7 linked regions of the Homo sapiens genome follow. The protein of the gene in region 1 interacts with the protein of each later gene in a pairwise test. Each region holds a gene or a part of one and is shown on either strand. Other genes may lie near its edges. The genes, in order: alpha-crystallin A2 chain, SPATS1, TMPRSS6, COL9A1, RBFOX1, LOXL4 and TUT7.

The links.
Region 2: the proteins of alpha-crystallin A2 chain (region 1) and SPATS1 interact in binary tests that used the Homo sapiens proteins (3 or more experiments, as listed by UniProt).
Region 3: the proteins of alpha-crystallin A2 chain (region 1) and TMPRSS6 interact in binary tests that used the Homo sapiens proteins (3 or more experiments, as listed by UniProt).
Region 4: the proteins of alpha-crystallin A2 chain (region 1) and COL9A1 interact in binary tests that used the Homo sapiens proteins (3 or more experiments, as listed by UniProt).
Region 5: the proteins of alpha-crystallin A2 chain (region 1) and RBFOX1 interact in binary tests that used the Homo sapiens proteins (3 or more experiments, as listed by UniProt).
Region 6: the proteins of alpha-crystallin A2 chain (region 1) and LOXL4 interact in binary tests that used the Homo sapiens proteins (3 or more experiments, as listed by UniProt).
Region 7: the proteins of alpha-crystallin A2 chain (region 1) and TUT7 interact in binary tests that used the Homo sapiens proteins (3 or more experiments, as listed by UniProt).

Annotation. Positions count from the first base shown.
Region 1 is NC_000021.9:6,505,703-6,509,202, forward strand, and holds part of alpha-crystallin A2 chain, read left to right. Parts: intron 1-1,100; exon of another isoform or gene 1,101-1,687; intron 1,688-3,500. UniProt on the Homo sapiens protein: Contributes to the transparency and refractive index of the lens. In its oxidized form (absence of intramolecular disulfide bond), acts as a chaperone, preventing aggregation of various proteins under a wide range of stress conditions.
Region 2 is NC_000006.12:44,363,150-44,366,649, forward strand, and holds part of SPATS1 (spermatogenesis-associated serine-rich protein 1), read left to right. Parts: intron 1-3,500.
Region 3 is NC_000022.11:37,106,914-37,111,201, forward strand, and holds the start of TMPRSS6 (transmembrane protease serine 6), read right to left. Parts: upstream 2,801-4,288; 5' UTR 2,590-2,800; intron 2,525-2,589; exon of another isoform or gene 2,426-2,524; intron 1-2,425. UniProt on the Homo sapiens protein: Membrane-bound serine protease. Through the cleavage of cell surface hemojuvelin (HJV), a regulator of the expression of the iron absorption-regulating hormone hepicidin/HAMP, plays a role in iron homeostasis.
Region 4 is NC_000006.12:70,293,085-70,296,584, reverse strand, and holds part of COL9A1 (collagen alpha-1(IX) chain isoform 1 precursor), read left to right. Parts: intron 1-2,021; coding exon 2,022-2,418; intron 2,419-3,500. UniProt on the Homo sapiens protein: Structural component of hyaline cartilage and vitreous of the eye.
Region 5 is NC_000016.10:6,017,550-6,021,823, forward strand, and holds the start of RBFOX1 (RNA binding protein fox-1 homolog 1), read left to right. Parts: upstream 1-1,474; 5' UTR 1,475-2,349; coding exon of another isoform or gene 2,350-2,352; 5' UTR 2,353-2,443; intron 2,444-4,274. UniProt on the Homo sapiens protein: RNA-binding protein that regulates alternative splicing events by binding to 5'-UGCAUGU-3' elements. Regulates alternative splicing of tissue-specific exons and of differentially spliced exons during erythropoiesis.
Region 6 is NC_000010.11:98,258,195-98,261,694, reverse strand, and holds part of LOXL4 (lysyl oxidase homolog 4 precursor), read left to right. Parts: intron 1-567; coding exon 568-773; intron 774-2,265; coding exon 2,266-2,304; intron 2,305-2,466; coding exon 2,467-2,686; intron 2,687-3,500. UniProt on the Homo sapiens protein: Catalyzes the oxidative deamination of lysine and hydroxylysine residues in collagen and elastin, resulting in the formation of covalent cross-linkages, and the stabilization of collagen and elastin fibers.
Region 7 is NC_000009.12:86,326,911-86,330,410, forward strand, and holds part of TUT7 (terminal uridylyltransferase 7), read right to left. Parts: intron 1,583-3,500; coding exon 1,430-1,582; intron 1-1,429. UniProt on the Homo sapiens protein: Uridylyltransferase that mediates the terminal uridylation of mRNAs with short (less than 25 nucleotides) poly(A) tails, hence facilitating global mRNA decay. Essential for both oocyte maturation and fertility.

The sequences.
Region 1 (3,500 bases):
TCTCATTGCCCAGGCTGGAGTGTAAGGGATGGCCTGATCTCGGCTCACTGCAACTTCGGCCTGCCAGGTTCAAGCGGTCCTCCTGCCTCAGCCTCCCAAGTAGCTGGGATTACATGCATGCACCACCACACCTGGCTAATTTTGTATTTTTAGTAGAGACAAAGTTTCACCATGTTGGCCAGGCTGGTCTTGAACTCCTGATCTCAGGTGATCCACCCACCTTGGCCTCCCAAAGTGCTGGGATTACAGACATGAGCCACCGCACCCGGCCAAGTTTTTTCTTTTTTTATATGTAATAAGTTGGATAAAGTGTTTATAAAAAGTTAAAAGTAGGCCCTCAAGCAGGTAAAGTAGGCTTGCTTCTTTTCAGAGCTATCCATGCTGATTCCAGGCATAGAGAATGCCTCCTTTGCCCTATTCATTAAAGGGCTTCACCCTGAAGTCAGTAATCTAATAGAGAAACAAGCTAAGTTGAAAAGACCCTGTGATGGTTAATATTAGCTGTCAACCTGATTGGATTGAAGGATGGTAAAGTATTGTTCTTGGGTGTGTTGTGAGGGTGTTGCCAGAGGAAATTGACATTGGAGTCAGTGGACTGAGAGAGGAAGACCCACCCTCAGTGTGGGTGGGCACCATCCGATTGGCTGACAGTGTGGCTGGAACAAAGCAGGTGGAGGAGGGTGGGAGAAGCTGGCTTGCTGAGTCTTCTGGCTTTTGTAGCCACCCAGTGAGTTCACCTAGCCGGCTGCCTAGATGGAGCGGATTTATCAGGACAGGGGAATTGCAATGCAGAACGAGTAATTTACACAGAGCTAGCTGTGCGGGCGACTGGAGTTTTATTATTACTCAAATTAGACATCCCAAGAATTTGCAGATCAGAGTTTTTAAAGATAATTTGGCGGCTCAGGAAGTAGGAGTGCTGATTGATCTGGCTGGAGATGGAATCACAGGGAGGTCAAAGTGAGGTTTCCTTGCTGTCTTCTGTTCCTGGGTACAATGGCAGAACTGGCTGAGCCAGATAGCCGGTCTGTGTGGTATCAGCTGATCCATAGAGTACAGGGTCTTGCAGAATAAATACCTCAAGCACTGATCTTCGGATTACAATGGTGATGTTATCCCCAGGAGCAATTTCGGGAGGTTTGGACAGCCAGAGGCTGGATGACCTTTAAATCAAAATTTCTTTTTTTTTTTTTCAAAGAAGCCCCATTTTATTACAGAGAGCATACAAAGCCGTTTCCTCATAAGGAAAAGTACAGCTTCCCTTCTCCAGGGTGACAGATGAGCCTTTTCTGAAGTTCTCAGCTTTCTCTTCTATCGATATTTCCCATGTCAGTTAAAGTGTTTGTAGAGACAGCTGATGCGTTTATTGAGGTTGTGCAGCTCATCAGCAAACATTCTGTTTCCAACCATTTTCTTCTTTAGCATACAGCGTTGCAATTCATTCCCCTTCCAATCTCGAAGCCATATGGGGTCCCTGATCAGCTTTTGGGGTGCTTTTCAAAGTTTCCCAGGATCCTGATGTTGTCATACACTCTGAACATGGCCATCCTTTCGTTCCAAGGATCAACTACTTTGGGGGGTAGGAGCCTTATACCAATCAATCTAGGAATACCAAGAAAGAAGCTTCTGCATGCCACACCTAGTCCCACAGGCGCCTACCTGCCCTACATAAGAGGCTCCCTGCCATTTCTCTAGTCTGCCCCTTCAACAGCACACCAAATAAGCCCAAGAATGAGGACCAGATGTGGCCTTCAAGAAGACAACAGGAACCGTCCCTGTCGACTTCACACGGGTACTAACGTGAAGGCAGCCACCTTGGGCCTTAAAATTTCTAATCTTGTAGCTAATTTGTTACTCCTACAAAGGCAGACTGGTTCCTAGGCAAGAAGGGGATCTTTCTGGGAAATGGCTATTATCAATTTTGTTTCAGAGTCAAACTATAAGCTAAATTCCTTCCCAAGGTTAGTTGGCCTGTGCCCAGGCATGAACAAAGACAGCCTAAAGGTTAGAAGCAAGATGGAGTCAGGTAGGTCTGATCTCTTTCACTGTCATCATTTCCTCAGTTGTAATTTTTGCAGAGGCAGTTTCACTTTCATCTTTCTCCTGTGCTGGATGCCTCCTCCGTTCCCCCTGCCCTTGGACATCAGACTCCAGGTTCTTTGGCCTTTGGACTCTTGGACTTAAGCCAGTGGTTTGCTTGGGACTCTCGGGCCTTCAGCCACAGATTGAAGCCTGCACTGTTGGCTTCCCTACTTTTGAGGCTTTTGGACTCCGACTGAGCCACTCCTGGCTTCCTTCTTCTGCAGCTTGCAGACGGTGTATCATGGGACTTCACCCTGTGATGGTGTGAACTAGTTCTCCCTAATATACTCCCTTTCATATATATGTCTATTCTGTTAGTTCTGCCCCTCTGGAGAACCCTAACTAATGCAGACCCTTGTGTAACTTTGATATCCAAAATATGGCTTTCTAGCATTTAGCTGGCTATTTTGAAACTCTTTGTAAAAAAAATTTATATATATGAAGGAAATCTCCATTTGTAAGGGTGTCTCCCTCCCTGCACCCAAACTGCTAGAAACTGAAGATGGGGAAGACATTGGCTGAAGACACTGTCTTACAGTTTACATCACAGACCTTGCCTTCGGTGGAAATACTTTTCCTGGCAACCTCGTCTTCACTAGGTGTAGGGACCAGCCCCACAGGATCGGTGGGTTTTTCTCCCCATGTGCAGAGACGAGAGATTGTAGAAATAAAGACACAAGACAAAGAGATAAAAGGAAAGACAGGTGGGCCTGGGGGACCACTAACACCAAGATGCGGAGACCGGTAATGGCCCCGAATGTCTGGCTGCGTTGTTATTTATTGGATACAAAGCAAAAGGGGCAGGGTAAAGAGTGTGAGTCATCTCCAATGATAGGTAGGGTCACGTGGGTCACGTGTCCACTGGACAGGGGGCCCTTCCCTGCCTGGCAGCCAAGGCAGAGAGGGGGAGAGAGAGAGACAGCTTGCGCCATTATTTCTGCATATCAGAGACTTTTAGTACTTTCACTAATTTGCTACTGCTATCTAGAAGGCAGAGCCAGGTGTACAGGATGGAACACGAAGGCGGACTAGGAGTGTGACCACTGAAGCACAGCGTCACAGGGAGATGGTATGCCTTCGGATAACTGAAGGTGGGCCTGAGGCCCTCCACAAGAGATGGAGGAGTAGAGTCTTCTCTGAACTCCCGTGGGGAAAGGGAGACTCCCTTTCCCGGTCTGCTAAGTAGCCGGTGTTTTTCCTTGACACTGACGCTACTGCTAGACCATGGTCCGCTTGACAACAGGCGTCTTCCCAGACGCTGGCGTTACCGCTAGACCAAGGAGCCCTCTGGTGGCCCTGTCCGGGCATAACAGAAGGCTCGCATGCTTGTCTTCTGGTCACTTCTCACTATGTCCCCTCAGCTCCTGTGTCTGTATGGCCTGGTTTTTCCTAGGTTATGATTGTAGAGCGAGGATTAT
Region 2 (3,500 bases), on another chromosome or scaffold:
TAAGACAAGGTCTTGCTCTGTGGCCCAGGCTGGAGTGCAGTGCCACCATCTTGGCTCACTGCAGTTCCGAATGCCAGCCCCCCAGCCCCAGGCTCAAGCAATCCTCTAACCTCAGCCTCTAAGTTGCTGGGACTAGAGGCATGTGCCACCATGCCCGGCTGATTTTTCTATTTTTAGTAGAGACAGGGTTTCTCCATGTTGCCCAGGCCAGTCTCAAACTCCTGGGCCCAAGCGATTAGCCGGCCTTGGCCTCTCAAAGTGCTGGTATTACAGGTGTGAGCCACTGCAGCCAGCCTACCCTGCACTCTTGAGCTGCAAGTACCTATCAAAAGTAAATGGGATTATCATAATGACCTAAATCTCAATCTTGACTTATCACTGCCCTCCTGGCTCAAAAGTAAACCACCTTATCCTGAATTTTATGTTTATGATTCTTCCCTCTCCTTTCCTTTCTTTTTCTTTCTTCTCCTTTCCTCTTCTTTTTCTTTCTTTCCTTCCTTCCTTCCCTCCTTCCCTCCTTCCTTCCTTCCCTCCTTCCCTCCTTCCTTCCTTCCCTCCTTCCTTCCTTTTTCCTTTCCTCCCTCCCTCTCTCCATCCTTTCATTTCTTCTTTCCCTTCTTCCTTTAGGGTTTTATAAATACTGAGTAAATGCAATGATATATTTATGAAACATTTGTTGACTATATAAAATGAAATATCACAAATACTTGCGTTCTTTTACTCCACTTAAGAAATAAAATTCTAACTTTATATTTGAAGGCTCCAATATCCTCTTCCCCGAATATTCCATCTTTCCTCCTCCAACTCCAGTGGTAACCCATATTTCATATTTTTTTAAAGAAAAACTTATTAGGTAAATTTTCAAACAATAGCAAAATGAAACCCGATGTACTCATCCACTTAGCTTCAATAATGATCAACACCTGGCTAACTTGTTTCATCATTACTCCTCCTCCCAGGGATTATTTCAAAGCAAATTTCAGACATCATATTATTTCATCTCTAAATATATCATATGTGCCTCTGATAGATAAGGATTATTTTATTAACATAACCACAATTCCATATCATAATATCATATTTTAAAAATTAACAGTAATTCCTTAATATAGTCAGTGTCCAAATATCCCATTGTCTCATAAATGCCACAATTTAAAAATATTTAGTTTGTTTGGATCAGGATCCAAGTAAGGCCCACAGATTGAAATTGGTTGGTATGTCTGTTAAGTTTCTTTCTCCCTCCTTTTTTCTTGCAATTTGTATGGTGAAGAAACTAGGCCTTATCCTGCAGTATTCACCATGATCAGGACTTTGCTGATTACATTGCTTGGTATCATTTAACAGGTTCCTCTTTCCTGTGTATTTCCTGTGAAGTGGTAGTTGGGTCTACAGGCTTGATTCGTTTTAGTATATGATTACTTCTTAGGTGATGTACAGTGACTTCTTTAAACATCAAACGCAATGGTCTTTTTCCATTTCTTCTCTTCCTTGATCTCACTGCAGCACTTGATACTGTCAAGCTTGACACTGGATACTTCTTCCTTTGTGAAATTCTCTCCCCACTCTTTCTTTCTTTTCTTTCTTTCTTTTTTTCTTTCTGTCTTTCTTTCTTTCTTTTTCTTTTTCTTCTTTTCTTTTCTCTTTCTTTCTTTCTTTCTTTTTTTTTTAGACAGAGTCTCGCTCTGTCACCCAGGCTGGAGTGCAGTAGCGTGACCTTGGCTCACTGCAACCTCCGCCCACTGAGTTCAAGCAATTCTCATGTCTCAGCCTCCTGGGATTACAGGCATGTGCCACCACTGCCGGCTAATTCTTGTCTTTTAGTAGAGACAGGGTTTCACCATGTTGGCCAGGCTGGTCTCCAACTCCTGACCTCAGATGATCCACCCGCCTCGGCCTCCCAAAGTGCTGGGATTACAGGTGTGAGCCACCACTCCTGGCCCCCACTCATTATTTCTTGGATGAGATGAAGTGGTAGGCTCAGGGACTGCCAACCAGCTGCCATTTTAAACTGGAATGCAACGCATTATTATATCAAAAAATCAATCAAAATATCTTTAAATAATGGTTGACTGTTATCCATCAGCCATAACCAGGATATTGGTGGAGTTCCCTAAAGGCCTAGCTGTTGCCACAGAACAAAATGCCATCTATGATTGTAGGTGGTAGGGAAATAGATCTGAAAATACAATTTTCTATTGTGTAGCTCTTCCCACAGTACAGCATATTGTATTAGTCAGAATAGGATAGATTCTGCCGCAGTAACAGTCCCTGAAATCTCTGCAGCTTAAGCACTAAAGTTTGCTCCTTTCTCTTGTAAAGTCCACTGTGGATCCAGCAGCTCTCCAGGACAGCTCCTTTCCAAGGATGCTGTCTGCTTTTATCTGTGACCTTTCCATCTCAACCTGTGGCTTCTAAGATTGCCATAGAAGGGTAAAGAGAAAATGCTGGAAGGTTTTTCACATCAGCTCCTTAAATGCTTCTTTTTAAAGTGGCACATATCATCTCTGCTCACAATCTATCAGTCAGAACATGGCTCTACCTAAACGCATCGGGGCACTGAAATGTGGGGCAGAGTAAGTTATTTGGTGAACGGTTCGCTCCCTTATATGGTTATTTGTCTCTAAATGTATGTTTCCCATTTTCTACCTCCTGAATGTCTACATCCAGGAAATTGGATGGTCTGTCTAAAAACAAACAAGCATTAGAACTGATCATGCAGTGTTATGGGTCCATCAGCTATTGATACATAGTGGCCAGCCCTTTGGGCTGATACCTGTTTTGGTGAGATATCCAGAAATTATACCAAGGCCCCATATTGTACTTAATAGCTTAAACAAACATGTTATCTCAGAAGTGTTGTTTGGGAGATTTTCCCCCTAAAAGTAACACCTTATACTGACATCACACCATTGCCTCTTTTTCTTCCTCCTGACATTATCTTGTGATATCTTTTACCATAGTCTATATATATATATATATTTTTTTTTTTTTTGAGACAGAGTTTCGCTCTTGTTGCCCAGGCTGGAGTGCAATGGTGCGATCTCGGCTCACTGCAATCTCTGCCTCCCAGGTTCAAGCGATTCTCCTGCCTCAGCCTCCTGAGTAGCTGGGATTACAGGCATGTGCCACCATGCCCAGCTAATTTTGTATTTTTAGTGGAGACGGGATTTCACCATGTTGATCAGGCTGGTCTTGAACTCCTGATGTCAGGTGATCCACCTGCCTCGGCCTCCCAAAGTGCTGGGATTACAAGCATGAGCCACTGCGCCTGGCCACCATAGTCTATTTCTAGGTGTTCTCCTTAGACCACCTATATCATAATCAACTGGAAAGTTTATAAAAATTACTGGTTCTGGGAACTATTAGAGATCTTCTGAAACAGAATTTCTTGGGTTAAAGGCTGCATTTTAAACAAGTTTCCTAGGTGATTTTCAGGTGTGCTAAAATTTTGGAACCACTGTTCTATAGTATATGGCATTTACTGCTTTGTAGTGTTACCT
Region 3 (4,288 bases), on another chromosome or scaffold:
AGCTGCCCCCTCCCCTGGGCAGCCCTTGATCAGATCAAGAATATGCCTTGGCTTTGGGTCTTGCCTCTGTCCCCTACAGAACAGGCAGGGCCAGCATCTTGCTCACCTCTGGGGTTCCCCATGGAACGCCGCACAGCCCGTCACATGAGTGAAGGATCAGAAAGAATGAGTGAATGAAACTGCCAAGTCTCTAGGCCCCTGGTACAGGGCTTTCTATCTTGCTGCCTCCAGGAAGGAGGACTTGTGAGGCCTGGCACTGGGGCATGGACAATGGTGTGGGCCTGTGGGGTCCCAGGTTCAATGCTCAGTCACCCTATCTTTGTCTAGCACCTGCTTGGTGCCAGGCTCTGTGGTGGCGACAGGGTGGCACATGGTGACTCTAAGAGACCTCATTCCCATCCTCTTGGGTTTCCTGCCCAGCAGGAGGAGGGGCAGTGGACAGTTGTGAAGATGACGGTGCCACTCTTGTCTTTACTATCTTATAATACAACGGCTCCCCCATTCCCAGGGTCCAGCACCTTTGGAAAAGCCTGTGGCCCTACCTTCCAAATGCCCCCCAAAGCCAGCCCCTTCTTGGCCCCCCATGACTCCCACCATCATCCAGGCCACCGTCATCTGTCACCTCGACTCCTGCAATAGCCAATCACCCACCCCCCTACCCAGTGAGTTCTCACACAATGGCCACTGCGTGTTGTCACCATGTGCCCTGCCCACAAGCCTCGCACGGCTTCCATCCACCTAGAACACAGTCCCTAAAGACCCAGGGTCTCAGTTTTCCTGTCCTCTTTGCTGAATGGGAGGTTTGCTCCTTGCTGGGCCTGGGATGTTTTCCTTTCTGCTGGCCTCGTGGCTCCCTCCTTTACCTCCTCCAAAGGGTCAGATGTCACCTCTCCAGAGAGGCCTTCCCTGGGCACTCCCGTCTCTCCTGCATTTTTCTTTATAGCAATTACAGAGGCCTAAATTGCCTGATATGCAAATATGTCATTTATCTGCCTCCTCCCTGTCTGTAAGCTGCATGAGAGCAGAGTCTGGTACTCAGCGGACACTCAGTAATTGTTAAATGAATGAATGACAAGGTCCCAGCTCCTTCCTCCCTACAGAAGTCCAAGGTGCTGTGTGCATATGTGGCCTGGCCAACTTCTCCTGCCTCCTTTTTTCCCACCCTCTCTTTTCCCCGTCGCACCCCAAGGACACTGGACTTCCATTGGTGAGAAATTTTAACAATGGGATGGTAGCAAACATTTATGGATTAAGAGCAGCCAGCCGGCACCAAGAGCCCTCGTGGACCTTGAGCCCTGTCAGTGCTTGTTCACGGCCAGGCGTCCCCACACTCTTCCTTCTGCCTGGGCCCCCACCTCCCAACCTGGCCAGCTCTTATGCAGCCCCTGTCACCTCAGTTCAGACCTCACCTCTTCGCAGCTCTCCCAGAGTGCCCTAGAAGGGGCGGCTGCCCCTCGCGATGTGCAGCTTACCTGTGGGCACTCTCTCTTTGCCCCTCACATTGAACTCCTGGAAGCGGGGACTGTGCTCCAATTGCCACAGGGGCCTGAAGCAGTCCCCCAGCTCTGAGCACCATGGACCCCACCCTGGCACCTGCTCCTCACTCCCTCCTGCCCTTCTGGCCATTGGAGGGTCTCGGGTCTGCCTGCTGGAGGCTGAGCTCCTTGGGGCGGGGCCGCGACTCCCCCAGCAATGCAGATCCGGATTCAACCACTGCGTATGAACTCCTACCATGTGCCAGCCCTGTGCTGGGCAGTGCTGCAAACTCCACTGCAGCCTCCAACAGCCTGGGGTGCCTACTTTGCTGACTCTATTTAATGGCTGGGGAAACTGAGGTAGAGAGAGGTAACATGACTTACCCGAGGTCCCTCAGCCAGGGCAGAGCAGAGCAGAGCAGGGACTCTGGGCTAGGGCCATAGGGGCATCTTTCAGTGAAACCATTAGGCCCTAGAGTCCTGAGAGTGTGGGGGACTGGGTGGGGGTCCCTTCCACACATATAAACACACTCACAGACCCACAGATGTACACAGATGGAGACACGCGGAGGGATATACGCACATCTATTCATGACACAAAAATTCATAGATGCACGCCCTTCCTACACAGACACACACACGAACACACATACACATACATGCCAACTCTGAGCCTGTGAGCCCAGGGTCCTGGGCTTAAGTCAGTACATAGGTGCAATGTGGGGCTCCGGGCCTGTCTCCTACACCAGAAGGCCCAGGTGGGGTACCGGGTGTGGAGGGGGCAGCATGTCCAGTCCTGCGAGGCAGGGGTAGGGTGGCCTCTCCCTTCCTCCTGTCCCTGCCACCTGAATCCCAGGCCACCAACCACCCAGCACTGATGCTGTGCCTGTCCACACACCTGGTGTCACCCTGCGTGGTCCCTCCCCTCCCCAGCTCTGTGGGCCCCTCACCTTCTGCTCACTGATCACCCTCTGGCCGATGAGGCCCTGCAGGCCTGGCCTCGGAGCAGGGTAGGTGGCTCAGGCTGCAGGGAGCCAGGCCCAGCTCTTAGGGTGGACACTGTCACTAGGTCATTTATAGATCCCGGTCCCCTGTCCTGGAGGCCCCCGCTTACCTTTGGGAGCGGCAGATAGGTGCCGGGCCTGCACACAGGCCTCAGGAGCCTCTGTTTGTCCAGGCCAAGGCCTCCCCACCCCCACCCAGCCAGCCCAGGCTGGATCAATGGCCTAGAGCCATGACCAGGGTGTCTGGCCCTTGTCCCCTGTGGCCTGTGGCCTCAGGCTCCATGGAACTCCTCCTGCTGGGTCCTGGACAGCACTGTGACTAAGTACAGGTAAACAGGCAGGAGGTAGGAGAAGGCAGTGCCTGCCCCGCCCCATCTTCCCCCACCCCCGCATGGGCACCCCAGAGGCTGGCAGGCAGGTGCGGGAGATCTGAGCTCTCCCCCGAGGCCCGTTGCCTGGTGACATGCCTGCCTGGTTACAGCCCCTGGTCCCCGAGAGCATGAGGTAGGGACAGCCAAGGACTGGGGACTGTGCAGAGGCCGGTGCAGGTGAGTGCAGGGGCTCACAAGGGTGAGTCCAGGTGCTTACCTGGACAGGCGAGACTAAAGGAGCTGCTGGCCTGAGAGAGAGAAAAGGAGGCTGGGCCCATATACTCTGGGGACTGGAGAGGAGAAAGGGGAGGCAGGGGTGGGGTTTGATGCTATTTTCTGTTTAGCTGGGAATTATTTGAATTCCTACCTCGTTCTTTTTTTTTTTTTTTTTTTTTTTTAAGATGGAGTCTCACTCCGTCACCCAGGCTAGAGTGCAGTGGTGTGATTTCGGCTCACTGCAACCTCCGCCTCCCGGGTTCAAGCAATTCTCCTGCCTCAGCCTCCCAGGTAGCTGGGATTACAGCGCCCACCACCATGCCCGGCTAATTTTCATAATTTTAGAAGAGATGGGGTTTCACCATGTTAGCCAGGCTGGTCTCGAACTCCTGACCTCAAGTGATTCCACCCACCTCGACCTCCCAAAACGCTAGGATTACAGGCATGAGCGACCGCACGCAGCATGAATTCCTACCTGGTTCCGTAGCGCTGTGCTGTCCATGACGGTAGCCGCTGGTCACCCGTGGCTCTTGAGTCAGTCTGAACTGAGAAAAGCTGCACGGGGGAGACGCACACCAGGTTTCCAAGGCCAAGTGCAAACAGGATGTCAACCAACGCGATAACAATTTTTATATTGATTTTATGTTGAAATAACACTGGTGATCATGGGATAAATAAAATGTATTATTAAAAGCAATTTTCTTCTGGCTCTCTTGTTTTTTTTTTTTTCAGAGACAGGGTCTCATTAGGTTGCCAGGCTGGTCTGGAGCTCCTGGGCCCACATGATCCTCCTGCTTCAGCCTCCCAAGTAGCTGGGATTACAGGCGCGGGCCACCACACCCCTTGTTGCATGTGGATATTAGACAGGTTAAGTCACAAGTGTGACCTGCGTTGTTGTTCTATGGAACAGCGTTGCTGTGGAGATGGGTTTGAGCCATATGCGTGCCGAAGTGCCGGATGGGAGCCAGGGCTTTCTAGGGTGCGTGCAGGGCAGCGGGCGTCTGTCTCAGACAAGGCTGACTTTCAGCGAGTCTACATCCTGAGGCCAGAATGCGGGGTGCACGCCTGAGATGCTGTGTGCTGTGGGCATATGGGTCCCAGAGTGTGTGTGTAAGAGAGACAGTCTGGAATTTGTGTGTGTAGATTATGTATGTGTAGAATGTGCGTGTGTGTGTGTGTGTGTGTGTGTGGAGCGTAGGGATTGTGTGTGGGGTATAAGATT
Region 4 (3,500 bases), on another chromosome or scaffold:
CCAGAATAGATATAATTCTGAAAAATATAAAGTCAAAGAAAATATGACAAACTGATTGATAAACAGGAAGTATATTAAAAACAAATATCTGGAGTCATGTAGTAGACAGTTTCATATGGGGAAAATAGGTCAGTCAATGGTTCTTGTATAATTTTTTTCTGTAGCTCCATATTGAATATTTTAAAATGTACACTTGAGGGATATAAAACATAGGTAGTGAACTGAAAACTTTGCAGTAAGATTAATACATGTCACCAGTGAAAAAAAGATGTATGGATAAAATAATTCATCCCATACCCTAAATACAAACCAGTCATATTACAAAGTAATGGTTAAAAAAAATACTTCTATGATGAAAGAGTATTCAGATGAAAAGTTAACCTTTTTGTTATCTTTAGAAAACTAACAAAGTGATAAAATTTGTTGAGATAGTTGACTTATTTTATTGAGGGCTTGTAAAAATATTTGTATAAAAGAAGTTAAAGATTTGTTTATGTTGTTATAAGACATAATAAAGTTTTATAATTAAAATCAAAGTAAAGATAGAAGATCTTAGCAAATTAAAGAGGGCTACATAACAAGAATTTGACTTGAAGGAAGGTTATTTGGGATTCTGGGTCCTGGTCCATAACTGTTCTCAGAAATATAAAATTTTTATTGTTTAGCACAGAAAATTCATTAGCATTTAGTTTGCCTAGCATTTCTTCCTTGCTTAGGAATTTTTCTACGCTTAGAAGGAGAAATGTAAAAAGACATAATGTTCAAGTCCTTGAAAGATGATGCTTACATTTAACATGCTGATTTTTAAAGTTCAGTCTTCAGCTTTTAGCAGCTTGGCTTCAGCAAAAGAATATCCAGGTAGCTGGTGCAGCTCCAGACCACAGTCTCTGTATAGGGTAGAGATGCCTCAGGGACACTACTGGTTTTATTCTGCCATTTAAAGCAGTAAAGGAGTTAGCAATGATACAGACTTAGTTGGCAGATTAAGGAACAACTGGGCCGGATGCAGTAGCTCACACCTGTAATCCCAGCACTATGGGAGACTGAGGCAGGAGGATCACCTGAGGTCAGGAGTTCGAGACCAGCCTGACTGACATGGCGAAACACCATCTCTACTAAAAATACAAAAAATTAGCCAGGCATAATGGTGGGCGCCTGTAATCCCACCTACTTGGAAGGCTGAGGCAGGAGAATCACTTGAACCCAGGAGGTGGAGGTTGCAGTGAGCTGAGATGGCGCCATTGCACTCCAGCCTGGGCAACAAAGTGAGACTCCATAAAAAAAAAAAAAAAAAAAAAAAAAAGAAGCAACAACAGAGTTGCAGTAGAGAAGTAAGAATTGGTCACTTTTCCCTTGCCACATATCCAGTGTCAAACTGCTACTTTAACATCATAATTTGAACTCCCTAAAAAAAGACAAACATCCTCAGTGTGAAGAAGCTCCTGAAGTCCTCAGTTACTGGTTCTCAAAATACTTATATGGGTCTGGGATATAATTGTGGAGTGGAATACCCAAGCAATTATGGAAATAACAAATAATCTTAACATGCTACTTTAAAATAAAACAATTAGAAGCTGCTAGCTGCTTTAATTAAATTGTTTCATAAGCTAGTACAGCTGATTTACATTCCTAATGATCTCCTCTCTCACTTGTGAATGAAATATTGCCAAGAACTTTGCAAGAATGTATTTTTTGGCTGAGATGAAATTGCTGAACAGTAGCTCTTTGGGTAGTATAAATAGTAATATTGTTGGGATTATGTGGCATTGGGAACCTTCCTTAGCCATGAGGGAGGGTGTTTTTAAAATGTGTAATTTAAGACGGACCATGAATGTACAGGAATGATTGAACTTCTGTAAAGGTCTTTATGAACAGTCATGAAAGAACAAACGGTACATAGGTTTTTACACTGTAGCTTTTCTATAGGTCTGGCATCTAAAATGGCCTCAAAAGGGAATGTGGTAAATACATATGGGTACAGGAAACAAGATGCATGTTTACTATTTAAAAATTTTACTCAGGAATTTATATCCCAGTGGACTGCCTGAAGAATACTCCTTCTTGACGACGTTTCGAATGACTGGAAGCACTCTCAAAAAGAACTGGAACATTTGGCAGATTCAGGATTCCTCTGGGAAGGAGCAAGTTGGCATAAAGATTAATGGCCAAACACAATCTGTTGTATTTTCATACAAGGGACTGGATGGAAGTCTCCAAACAGCAGCCTTTTCGAATTTGTCCTCCTTGTTTGATTCCCAGTGGCATAAGATCATGATTGGCGTGGAGAGGAGTAGTGCTACTCTTTTTGTTGACTGCAACAGGATTGAATCTTTACCTATAAAGCCAAGAGGCCCAATTGACATTGATGGCTTTGCTGTGCTGGGAAAACTTGCAGATAATCCTCAAGTTTCTGTTCCAGTAAGTATAAAACCACACACTATGGCAGATTAAAGCAAAACTAGATTGGTAAAAATGAACATCTCAAGCATCTTTGATAATCAGCTGAGTGCAGCATGTCCCAGATGGAATTTGGAATCAGAGGAAGTTAAGTAGATAGCTTCTGGTCTTGAGGAGCTTAAAGTTGGAAAGTGTTACATGCCCACCTAGTGCACCCAGAGTCTTTCTGAGGCAACTTAGAAAGAAAGCCATACTGATGTGGCACATATTGTGTACACATAACTAATAAAAATATTCAAAGTAAGGTTGAGGTAGGTGACAGATTCAGTTAGTCAAGAATCCCATGCTTCTTGGAAGCAATGCACTTTGAAATGAAAGGATTTGGATTGGCAAAAAGAGAGGAGAAAGTACATTATAGCTGAGGGAAACACCATTAAGGGAAAAAGTTAATAAGTAGATCACATTCAAAGGCCTAGGGACTCGCTGATTTGGATGATATATGTATATGAAAATGTGTGTGTGTGTGTGTGTGTGTGTGTGTGTGTGTGTGTGTGTGAAAGAGAGAGAGAGAGGAGGGTGAGACATACTATCTTCAGAGTGGTGAGAGATGAGGTTAGAAAGCCATATGATGTCTGGTCAACAAGAATGAAAGTTATATAGATGCATAATATTGATTTATTTAGAAGTAGGTCTTGCACGACGTATTGTAGAAGTGAAGGATTTTAGAGCTCTGTTCATGATTTTACTGCAGAGATCCCCAGATATAAAGGTAAGGAATTACATGTTGACACAATAATTGTGCCAACTAGTACAAGATAGTTCTATCATTTTGAATTGTTATACTTTGAGCAATGCTTTAAAAGGATGTTTTATAATATTATGATAGGAATTTAGAAAATATGTCTTAGAGGACAAGTGTTCTTTTGAAGGAAACAAAGGAATTTAGAGCTCAACAAATAAATCTTGAGGCCAACCTCTCTTTCTCTCTCTCTTTCTCTCATACTAGCACGGAGCTGTTAAATTCTAGTCACAAAACCCATATCACGGAGTGTAGCAGGGTGATACAATGATTTCAAATTGTTTCTGTGCATGTCTCCAAAGAA
Region 5 (4,274 bases), on another chromosome or scaffold:
TTATCAAAGAGAATCCTAAGGAAACATATGGTAAAAATCAACCCAAATTGCAAAATCGCTGGGACCAATGATAAAGATATCTTTCTGGATTTTGCAAACTTACTTTTTCAAATGATGATTAAATATTGCGTGCTTTAAAAAGTAATATAGTTATAGGCAGAAGTTCCCTTTCTTTTATTCTGAGGTTGAAAGAAACCGCAGCCCGATAGGATTGCAAGAGGAACCCTTAAGGAATCTGCTCCTTGATGGGCGCTAGGAAATACACGTACATCTAGTACAAAGGAATGCACATCACATGGCCCCCTGTTTTGGAAAGCTTACAGCATTTCTTATAAGAGGATCCATGGTATAAGTGCAAACACAGTCACATCACAGGATGGGAAAATGAACAGGCGCCTCAGATCAAGTGCTCAAGGCTGGAATCTGGCCTTGTCCAATGCCACCTGCCCTTCAGAAGGCAGGGTGGTGCCACATAAAATGAGGTAGACTGCCTGGGGAGTCCTGGTTCCTTGCCAGCTATGTGACCTTGAACAAATTACAACTCACTGAACCTCAGACTGACTTTATTGTACAACAAAACCCCCTGGAATATTTGTGGAAAAAAGAGGAAGGGAGAAAGGAAGGAAGGGAGGAAAGGAGGAAGGAAGAAAGGGAGGGAGGAAGGAAGGGAGGGAGGGAAAGGAAAAGGTAGGGGAAGAGCAGAGTTTCTCACTCCAGTCCAGAGTGGGACCCAGGAAGGGAGAAATATTGCTTTAATCTCTCTAAGCATCTGTGAAATGGATAAACCTCCAGTATCTACTTCCAGTTGTTGAAAAGACTCCATGTAAAGTGCTTAAAACAGCATCTGGTGGAAAGTAAATGCTTATTAAGTGCTAGTGTGTATTAAGGCGTCATGGGGCTTCTGGCTGTAAGACATCTGCTAGGAGGACAATCCCTAGACCCCTTCAGCGTCCATTGCGGGAGTAGGTGGCCAGGAAGGGGGCAGGACAGGAGAGGCCCAGCTGTGCGGGGTGGGGGCGTCCCAGGCCAGCCGCACCCACCCCAGCCCTGCATCCCATCCAGCCTGGAGAACTTTTTGAATCTTGGATAGGGCTCGATCTCTGCCTGGCCGGAAGATTTGAAGACTTGCCAGAAAACTTCCTCAGAGAAGAAATGGACTGGGGCAAGAAGCTGCCTCCACTTGGCGTCTCTAGTGGGGGATTTGTCTACTTTGATTGGGGTTGGGAGGAGGGCGCTGGTGCTCAATGAGTGAGCCCACCTGGGGACTACCAGGACGAGGACGGGCGCAGGTGAAAGTCCTGGGCTCATTGCCCCAGCATCCAACTTTCACCCTCTGTCCCCTTTAGGCCAGGAGACCAGGGTACCGGGTCGCGTGTCCGCCGCCGCCGCCCGCTGGAATCCAGGGCTGCACGCGTGACCGCGGCGGCGGCGGCGCTGGCGAGGGGAAGGGGGAGGGGGCGCTCCCTCGCGCACCAGATTATTTTTGGCTCCGCAGCCGGGGCTGCTCGCTGCTTGTCGCGCGCTCACACACACACAGACACACACGCACACACACACATGCACACATTTTCTCGCGCTCTCTCCGGCTCTCCTTTGTTTATTTTCTAATCTATATTTTTACTGGAAGATTTCCTCTTTATTCTCTCCCGCCCTCCTACAAGCGCTCTTGCTGGCCGTCTGGGTGCACACACCGCTCCCTCGATCACCCCAGCCCCCTTCCTGGTCTCCCGAGCGCGGGGTTTGAAGGTCACCTCCTTTCCAGTCCCCGTGCGAGCCGCGCTGCCGCCGCCTCCTCCAGCCAGAGTCGGTGGGACTGGCTGCGCTGCCCTGAAGTGGTTCTCCAAGCAGCGCGGAGGGTGGCGGACGGCGGACGGAGCCCAGGGGCCGCGTCGGGTGGGGAAACCCGAACTCGCGGAGGGGAATCCCTCCCCCTCCGCCCCAGCCCCCCAGCAGCACCCGCGGTGGGGCGGGGGCGCTCTGCCAGCCCCGGGAACAGCAGAGGCGGCGGCACTGGCTGGACCCACGCGCGCGCCTCCGGGGCTGAAGAAGGAAGGAGTGAGCCGAGCCGAGCACCCCACATCTGGAGGGGACAGCCAGCCGTGGGCCCCGCCCCGGCGTCCGGAGCAGGAGAACTCCGAGCTTCTTGCCCAGGCAGAGAGAGCAGGAGCGGACCGCGCGCCCGGGATTGAGAGTCCTTGCGCTCCAGACCCCCACCCAGTGGCCGCCAGGGTCCCCGCCTGTCCGGACCCTCGCCGCGCCCAGGCAGGCGCGCCAGGGCGGGGCTGACCTGCCCGCGAAGTTGCGGACAGTGCGTGAGAAACCAGCACCCCCTTCCGCCGCCTCCAGCTTATGGTGAGTGTGGCTGGGGGTGCAGAGAGCGCACGGGAATTCGGGGGTCTGGGGCCGAGAACGTGACCGCAGCCGGGCTCGCCGGGAGTTCTAGGTAAGTCCAGGCGGAGTCATTGCCTCTGCACCCACCCTGACCTGGTGGGTCAGGTCCAGAAGGTCTCATGGAGGGAAGCGCTAGGTCCCCGAGAACTGGCCTCCTCCTAGCGCCAGTCTGGGCGCTCTGGACGGGAACTTTTTCAGGGTGTGTGGAAAGATCTCGAGGCGTGTCCCCCCCTACCCCCAGGAGGCCGAGACCCTGAGCCCCCTTGTGCGTCGCTTCCAGAAGCACGTCCTTCCTTGCCCCAGAGCGCCCCTCCGAAGCATCCAGGCTACCTCGTCCGTCCTCCTGGGAGCGAGTCCTAGGTGCCAGGAGCAGCGGGAGCCTGCCTGCGCACTTTGATTAGTCTCCCTGGCCGGCTGCAAGCGTGCACTCAGCGCGCCCCCGGACCGCTGCCTCCGCCCGCAGGGTGTGCAGGAGGAGGCATCTTAGTGACCCGGGAGGGTGTTTAGGTGCCCCGAACCCCTTGTGGGAGGAGGGGAAGAGAAGGCTCACTTATGTGGAGAAAGCGCCGCTGTGTTTACTGGCACTGGAATCGATGCCCCGCGGTGCCACCTCGACCCCAGGGGAGGGGGCCAGCCGGGAAACCTGCGAATGGGAAACTCCTACTGTGCCCCTGGTTCCTGGGAGCCTTAGAGAACCTTCACCCCAGAGAAGGAAACACAGGGGTAGCAGATCTTAGCCCTGTGTTGTTGTGCAGGCCAGGGGGGGGCTTGTCAGCTCCAATCAACCAATTGTCCAGCTATGGAAGCGAGGGCGGGGCTAGTGGGGCGCCGCTCCCATCTCCCCACCGCCCAGGAGGCCACTTGGCTGTGAGCTCCTGGAGCCTCCCTGGCGCCAGCTGCGGGGACCAGGTGTCACGCGGAGCCCGGAAGCTGTCCACTCAGCAAGGGAGGGGAAGACCCCGATCTAACCTTGTCCTGGAGCCCCCAGCTCCATTCCTTGCTGCCAGGGAATGGTCAGGGGGCTGGGAGAGCTCATCGCTCCTGTGTGGGCCAGAGCTGGGGTGCACCTGCTGGCACTGGAACATCTGGGGTGCGGCTACTGAAGAGCTTGGAAATCCTGGTCAGGCAGTCCGGGCAATTGGCACCCCAAAGGCGGATCTTTTCAGTTGAACTTGAAAAGAAGTGGGGGAGTGTGGTGAAATAGCTTTGTTGAGTTGAAACATCATGTCTCCTAACTTGGGTTTTCCTTTATTAGAATAATGATTGTTTATTTTTATTTTTAAACTCCGTTGTGCAGAGAGGCCTGGCCTTGACAGCCCAAGTTTAGGACATGCCCCAGCCTGCCATCCCTTCCCTGCCCCCTGTCCTAGTTCATCTCCCCTCCATTTATCATTTTATCTTTGTTACAAAAGAGAGAAAAAAAAGATGAGAGGGCCTGGATTCTTTCAATTTTTAAGTGACCACAGAGGCCCCGGCTGGAGCTACTGGCAGATTTATTTTTAGCTAAGATCTTTTATGTTCAGAAGCAAAGGACCTGGGGCCTGTGAAGGGTAAAGGTGGTGCTGGCAGTGGCTGTGCTGGTAAAAAGTGGGGCTGACTCAAAACCTGTGTCCTCTTTGAGCTCGTCAGGGAGGCCCTCCGTTTGGAAGAATCCCCTGGGCTTTCCTTAAGTTAGCTTATGGTTGCCTCGGGTTAGGAAGAAAAGTCATCATTCCTCGCGGTAGTGGAAGTGACACCTTAGGGGTCCAGAGAGTGGAGCTTTATGGCTCAGAAGAGCACAGGGCTTCTGGATCCGTTATCTGCCAGCTGTGTGACCTTGGGCAAGTTGCTTTACCTCTCTGAGCTTCGGGTTGTCACCTGTAAAATCAGAGTTTCAGTCGTAG
Region 6 (3,500 bases), on another chromosome or scaffold:
GCCCAAGCCAAACAACAGGAGCGGGCAGGGCAGGGCTCTGCTGCCAGGCAGCCTCCAGCCTCAGGACAGCTGGCCATGGCCACTGAATGCAGCGTGTTGTGATGGGGACTCTGTACTGGTCTAAGTCATCCCAGGGCTAGGGTTGGGGGTTCTTGTGGGCCATAGGATCCTGCTGTGGTCTCAAGCAGCTGGTCTATGCCCATCTCAGCTCTCTCAGGGTGGTACAGAGAAGGCCCTTCCATGCCCAGCAAAAGCCTCCCAAACTCCAAGGGCTCCCATCCTGATCCCAGCGGGGGCCAGATCTGCCTAGTTCTCTCCAATTTGACAAATTCGAGGAACTGAGGGAAAGGGCTTAGACAAGCTGAGGTTCTGCCTTGCACTTACTCTGTGGCCTTTGATAATGCCTCCCCTTCTCTGGGCCTCAGTTTCCTGGCCTGTTCAATGACCGGGCTGGGTGGGATGGTCTCGAAAAGCTCCAAGCCCCAGCCTTTCTGCATGAAGATCTGCAGCAGGCTCCACTGGAGGAGCAGGAGCCCCGAGGCCCACAGGTGACTGTGCACCCCGCAGGGCCGGCGGCTGGAGGAGGTGCGGCTCAAGCCCATCCTTGCCAGTGCCAAGCAGCATAGCCCAGTGACCGAGGGAGCCGTGGAGGTGAAGTATGAGGGCCACTGGCGGCAGGTGTGTGACCAGGGCTGGACCATGAACAACAGCAGGGTGGTGTGCGGGATGCTGGGCTTCCCCAGCGAGGTGCCTGTCGACAGCCACTACTACAGGTAGGAGGGCGGCTGGCGTAGGCCCCACAGGAGGCAGGGTTGTGGGGCAGGGACTGAGTGTGTGTTCATGTGCGTGCATGTGATGTAGGGTGTGTGCATGAGTCTGAGTGTGGACTCATGTGAGGGGCAAGTAAGTATGCACACAGGCGAGTGTGTGATGTGTGTGGCATGTGGGACCTCGCAGAGTTCAGTGAGTACTGACTGGCAGTGGTGTTGTCTGTGGCAGGACATCCAGCAGGTGTTGGGATTGGGGGAGAGAAAACAGGCCCTACTGAGGAATGTGCCCAGATTTCTTGCTTCACGGGTGCCTCAGAATAATAAACAGGAAAGTGAATAAGGAGGACCTTCAGGATCCTGGGAAATACCTAGAAACAGTCAGAAAACAAACACTGCACTCTCGAATTATGTAAACAGAATTAACTAGGTACAGAACGCCCCCCCACCCCCCGCCCCCGGTGAAAACAGTTGAACATAAAACCGCGTGTCCTTGGTTAAAACACTAGACTTTCCTGCAGATACTTGCAGTGACACCCACGTGTAGAGTTTAGACAAACTGTTCTGGCCTCAGCTCAGCCAGTGACTGGCGTTAGGGCTTTGGGGAGGGCCTCTGAGCCTCCATCCTCAATTCCACTGCGAATATCCCAACGCTTCCCTCCTGAATTTCCTCAGCTCTGATCAAGCCAGGCTGTGACTGGGTTGTGTGTAAGTGAGGCGTGGGGTGGGGCACCTGGAGAGAGGAGACATAAAAATATTCTGTCAGAAACAAGGCGGAACTGTCACAACTGATTGCATCAACCAGTAAACGACAGCCACAGTCATGGTTCTGCCAGATCCGTGTCAGGGAGGACTTGTGTGTTTCCCATCAAGTGAGAAGTCTCCCGTAGTACGTCTGAGTCATCTGCCACCCCAATCAGTTTGATCCTGCTTCCCTAAAGGGTTAGAAGGCCCTTGTTGCAGTGACTTAGAGGAACCCCGTTCTGAGGAAACAGGGGTGCTGGTCAGCCTCTGGCTCCATCCTTGGGGATCCTGGGATGCAGCCTGACTCCCCCTGCCTGGTAATTGCACACCTGGGTCTCGCTGACTTGCCTGCCACCCATGAGGAGGGCAGGCCTGATGGTAGCCTGGGTGTCTCTGGGCGGGCCGCCCCCACCAGCAAGGCCTTCACCTCCCACCTGTCCCCAGAGGGCCCCTTCTCTTGGGCCCTCCCTAAATGCTCCCCTTCCTCTGGACTTCGGAGAGGGCAAGCCTGATCCACCTGCCCCCACTCTAGGACTGGCCGAGGGACCTTGCTTGCCTTCCTTGTAAAATGGTTATTTGTGAGGTGGCCACCCCGTCAGGGCTGCTGTGAAGCTCAGCATTGAAATCAGATTAGTGAATAAGTTTACAAAATGTAAAGTCCTGTGCAAACTTAAGGACAACTATGAGGAACCAGGTGGCAGGGGGTGGGACTTCCACACCCCTTCCACCTCCTATCTGTTTTCTCCCATAACAGGAAAGTCTGGGATCTGAAGATGAGGGACCCTAAGTCTAGGTGAGGAGCAGCACCCTAGAGGGAGGAGGCAAAGGGGTGTGGCATGAAGGGCCTCTATCCCATCCCCTACCCTCCCCTTCCCTCCTTTCTACCTTGGCCTCCCTTAGTCCTGAAGCTCTTCCCTCAGCCCTTCCTCCACCCTCAGTCTCCCTTGTCCTCTAGGCTGAAGAGCCTGACGAATAAGAACTCCTTCTGGATCCACCAGGTCACCTGCCTGGGGACAGAGCCCCACATGGCCAACTGCCAGGTGCAGGTGGCTCCAGCCCGGGGCAAGCTGCGGCCAGCCTGCCCAGGTGGCATGCACGCTGTGGTCAGCTGTGTGGCAGGGCCTCACTTCCGCCCACCGAAGACAAAGCCACAACGCAAAGGGTCCTGGGCAGAGGTGAGCCCTGGGCATCCTGCACTCACACCACAGCTTGGAGGCACGGGCGGGACACTGCCTGGTGGGGGGTGCGGGGAGGTCCAGGACACGCAGGAGAGAGGAACCAGACTGGGAGGAGGAGAGTGAATCACAGAACTGTAGAACCTTGGAATGTATTTAAAAGGGATCATTTATAGCCCTACCATAAATGGAAAGCTGACATCACCCGCCTTGAATAGAAGGTGACCGTAAAAACAGTAATTAAATCCTAACTACATTCCACTGAGGGCTGGTACTGATCCTGAGCCTGCTCCTGAGCCTGCTCCTTTGTTTTAAAGAGGAGATGAGCAAGTGCTTATGAGGTGGTAGAGACGCCTCAGTGCCAAACTGAGATGCCCTCATGAGGTGGTACAGATGCCGTGAGGTGGTACAGATGCCTCAGCGCCACACTGAGATGGCCTCGTGAGGTGGTACAGACACCTTAGTGCCACACTGAGATGGCCTCGTGAGGTGGTACAGATACCTTAGTGCCACACTGAGATAGCCTCGTGAGGTGGTACAGACACCTTAGTGCCACACTGAGATGGCCTTGTGAGGTGGTACAGATGCCTTAGCGCCACACTTGAGACGGCATCCTTGATGAGGCTGTGGGGGTGATTGGTCATTGAAGAAATGGAGATCAAGAAAAACAGCTTATTCAGGGTGACAGCTATGGGAAGTCAGAAGCAGGACTGGAACTCCCCATCCTTGGCTCTGGCCACCGCCATGGAACTTGAAGGAGCCCCGTTGGGGATCCCGCTGTGGGGGCTCAGCCCCTGCTGGTGCCTCCTCCTCA
Region 7 (3,500 bases), on another chromosome or scaffold:
CAATAGCTTTTCCTATAATTCACACTGAAAAAAGTAATTTCCTCTAAGGTGCACAAATTTGTTTTCAATCATACTTTATTATATTAAGCTTCAAAATCAGTGGTCTATTTTTCTCAATCACAAAGGTTCTGTCAAGTAATACAAAGTCATCTGGTGGCTTTACAAGGCAGAACTGATTAAAAATGGAAGTTGTCTAAGTCCCAAACACTACAGTTTGAGGACACAAATAAACCCCCCAGAAATTTTAAGCATTATTACATTTTACCTCTTTATCCATAGCGGCATTACAAAGGATTTTTAAGCATCTCACTGAAATGACTTGATAATACCATAACATGAAACTGGAGAGACCTTTGAAATATCTAGACTACAGGAACTTAAACTGGTTTTCTTTAAAGCAGAGAACATTTTCTTTTTCAAATAAAATAAGAATAGCAGCTAACATTTACTGAGTGCTCACCACATGCTCGGCACTGAGTTAAGCATTCTGTAAGTGACCCTATGAGAGGGTACCAATATTATCCCCATGAGTAGGGAGGAAACTGGTGCACAGAAAGGCGAAGTCACTTGCCCAAGGACACACAGCTGGGAAGTGGGAGAGCTGGGATACAAATTCACATATTCTGGCTCCACAGCCTATACTCTTCTCCACTACAGAGACTCCAAATAAGAAACAGATAAAAGTGGTTCTGGTGGCAGCAGAGGTAGGGTGGTACCACCACTCTCCTCCTCCTCCCAGTGTTCAAGGATTCTAGAAAACACAACTGGAAAATCTGATTCACCACTAACTCCTCATTTTAGGCATGAGTAAAACATGAACTGGAGGAGTGACATGACTTGTTTGTATAAAGCTGGGATTCGATTCCAAGAATTTTGTGGATGTTACTGTCAATTTACCCCAAAAGGTAACGGGAAGATCAGGGGCCTTTCACCTATTTGGGAGAGAATCTTATTCTTATTACTAGGATAATGACATTGCAGAGATTTTTGTTTGAAATTCTAATGGCTATTCTTTCCTTGTGCATAAATTCCCCTGCCCACCCCCAACAGTATGGGACCGGTACATTAAATCATATATGCATTCACTGTTATTTTAGTAACTGAAAGCTAGTTAACCTTTCATACATTTAAACCTCATAATACCACCTAAGACTAAGCTCTTTGAGGATAGATATGGATTTACCTTTGAATTCTGAGTCTCTTTCAAAGGAACCAGCACAAAGAAACTACATAAATAACTGTGGATTTAGTGATCTAATATTTTTTTTAACCTTTTCTCATTACTTGTCTGTTCGAGGTACTAAACAGACTGGCAAATGAAAGAGCCACGAAATAGTAAAGATAGTTAAGGAAAGAAGACAAGACTGACTAATCCACAACTTCACAATTGGCAAGTGAAACTGACAACTAGAAACAAAAGAGAACAGACCTGTCCCCTTTTAATCGGCGTTTCTCTTGGTGCCTCTTCTTTTGTTATGCCTGTGTCCCCTGCAGCACTGTCAGTATGTTCCCAGATCACAACATCTTTTTCAATGTCTTGAAGGTTGAAATTCCCTAGTTTGCTTAATGAGAATCCTTCAATCTAGGAAAAATTAGACACATGCTAAAATAAGATAGAAATAATCTTATATCAAACACAGTCTACTAATCTTGGAATAAAAAAATACTCATAGTTCAACGAAAATACAAAAGATATAATTTATGGACTATCACAGAGACATCTATACATTTAAAAATATTTTTAAAAGTAAAAAACAAGGTTTTGATTTGCAAAAGAAATGGTGACTTTGTGAAATAATTCCTCAGTAAATATTCTAAGAGTAGGCAAAATGGCCTAGTGGCTGACGTCATGGGTTCTGAAGTAAAACTGCCTGGTCCCAAATCTCAGCTCCTTCATATACTAGCTGTATAACCTTGAGTAAGGTACTTACTCTCTGTAGGCCTCAGGTTCCTTTAAAAAGGGGTAACACTAGGACTTCCTTCATGGGATGGTTATGATATAAAAAAAATGACCATAAGGCACTCAGATAGAGGTAGTATCTGCTTGTAGCATACAGCACATAGTAACTGCTTAATAAATACAAGACAACTATATTGCTAGAAAATGAAAATTACAAGAACTAGATCCAGCTAATTAGAAAATAATTTTAAATACTATTAATTCTGGGTATGCTGGACATTTTCAAAGTAAATTTTATGTGCTATTAATGAATATTAATGCAAAAGAAAATGGTCTAGTTGAAAAGGCTTGTGAAATGTCAAACGGAGCTGAACAGGTTTCTTCATCGTATGATAGGATTTATCACAGCCTTTAAAACAGGTTAATGAACAGGCCACGCATGGTGGCTCATGCCTGTAATCCCAGCACTTTGGGAGGCTGAGGTGGGCGGATCACCTAAGGTCAGGAGTTCGAGACCAGCCTGACCAACATGGAGAAATCCCGTCTCTACTAAAAATACAAAATTAGCCAGGCATGGTGGCGCATGCCTGTAATTCCAGCTACTCAGGAGGCTGAGGCAGAAGAATTGTTTGACCCTGGGAGGCAGAGGTTGCAGTGAGCCGAGATGGTGCCATTGCACTCCAGCCTGGGCAACAAGAGCGAAACTCCATCTCAAAAAAAAAAAAACAAAACAAAAAACAAACAAAAACAGGTTAATGAACAAAATAATATGGGATGGAGTATGGATGTGACATCACATTTCCCAAATGTATTTTTATACCAAATGGGCTACTTCATTGGTTTAGAAGAGAGTGATCCTTCTAAAACAGAAGACACACTCTCCTGTTCATAGTGGTTTCTGTCTCACTCTAGATGAAGTGCAGTCCTTTCCAGGGCCTGAGTAACCTGGCTCTTTTCTACTTCTCTGATCCTTCTATCTTCTTGGCTCAGAGATGACACCTGGTATTCCCTCTGCTTAAAATGCTCTTCCCCCTAACAAAGTGAGGGAGACTATGACTCATTCTCCCTCACTTTATTCAGCTCTGCTCAAATGTTTTCTCTAAGGAGCTCCACATTTATCATTCTCTGTCCTCCTTACCCTGGTTTATTTTTCCTCAGAGAAAGTACCACCACTGCATATATATTTATTAGTCTCTTGCCCCAATTGGATGTATAAATTCGAGGGCAAGAATTGTGTTTTGTTCACTTCTTTTTTTTTCTTTTCTGAGGCAGAGTCTCACCCTGTTGCCCAGGCTGGAGTGCAGTGGCATGATCTCGGCTCACTGCAACCTCTACCTCCTGGGTTGAAGCGATTCTCCTGCCCCAGCCTCCCAAGTAGCTGGGATTACAGGCGCCTGCCACCATGCCCAGCTAATTTTTTTATATTTTTTTAGTAGAGATGGAGTTTCACCACGTTGGCCAGGCTGCTTCAACTCCTGACCTCAGGTGATCCACCCACCTTGGCCTCCCAAAGTGCTGTGATTACAGGCGTGAGCCACCATGCCCGGCCCTGTTCACCACTTCTAACAGTAACACCCAGAATTAGTTGGTGCCTGGCCAT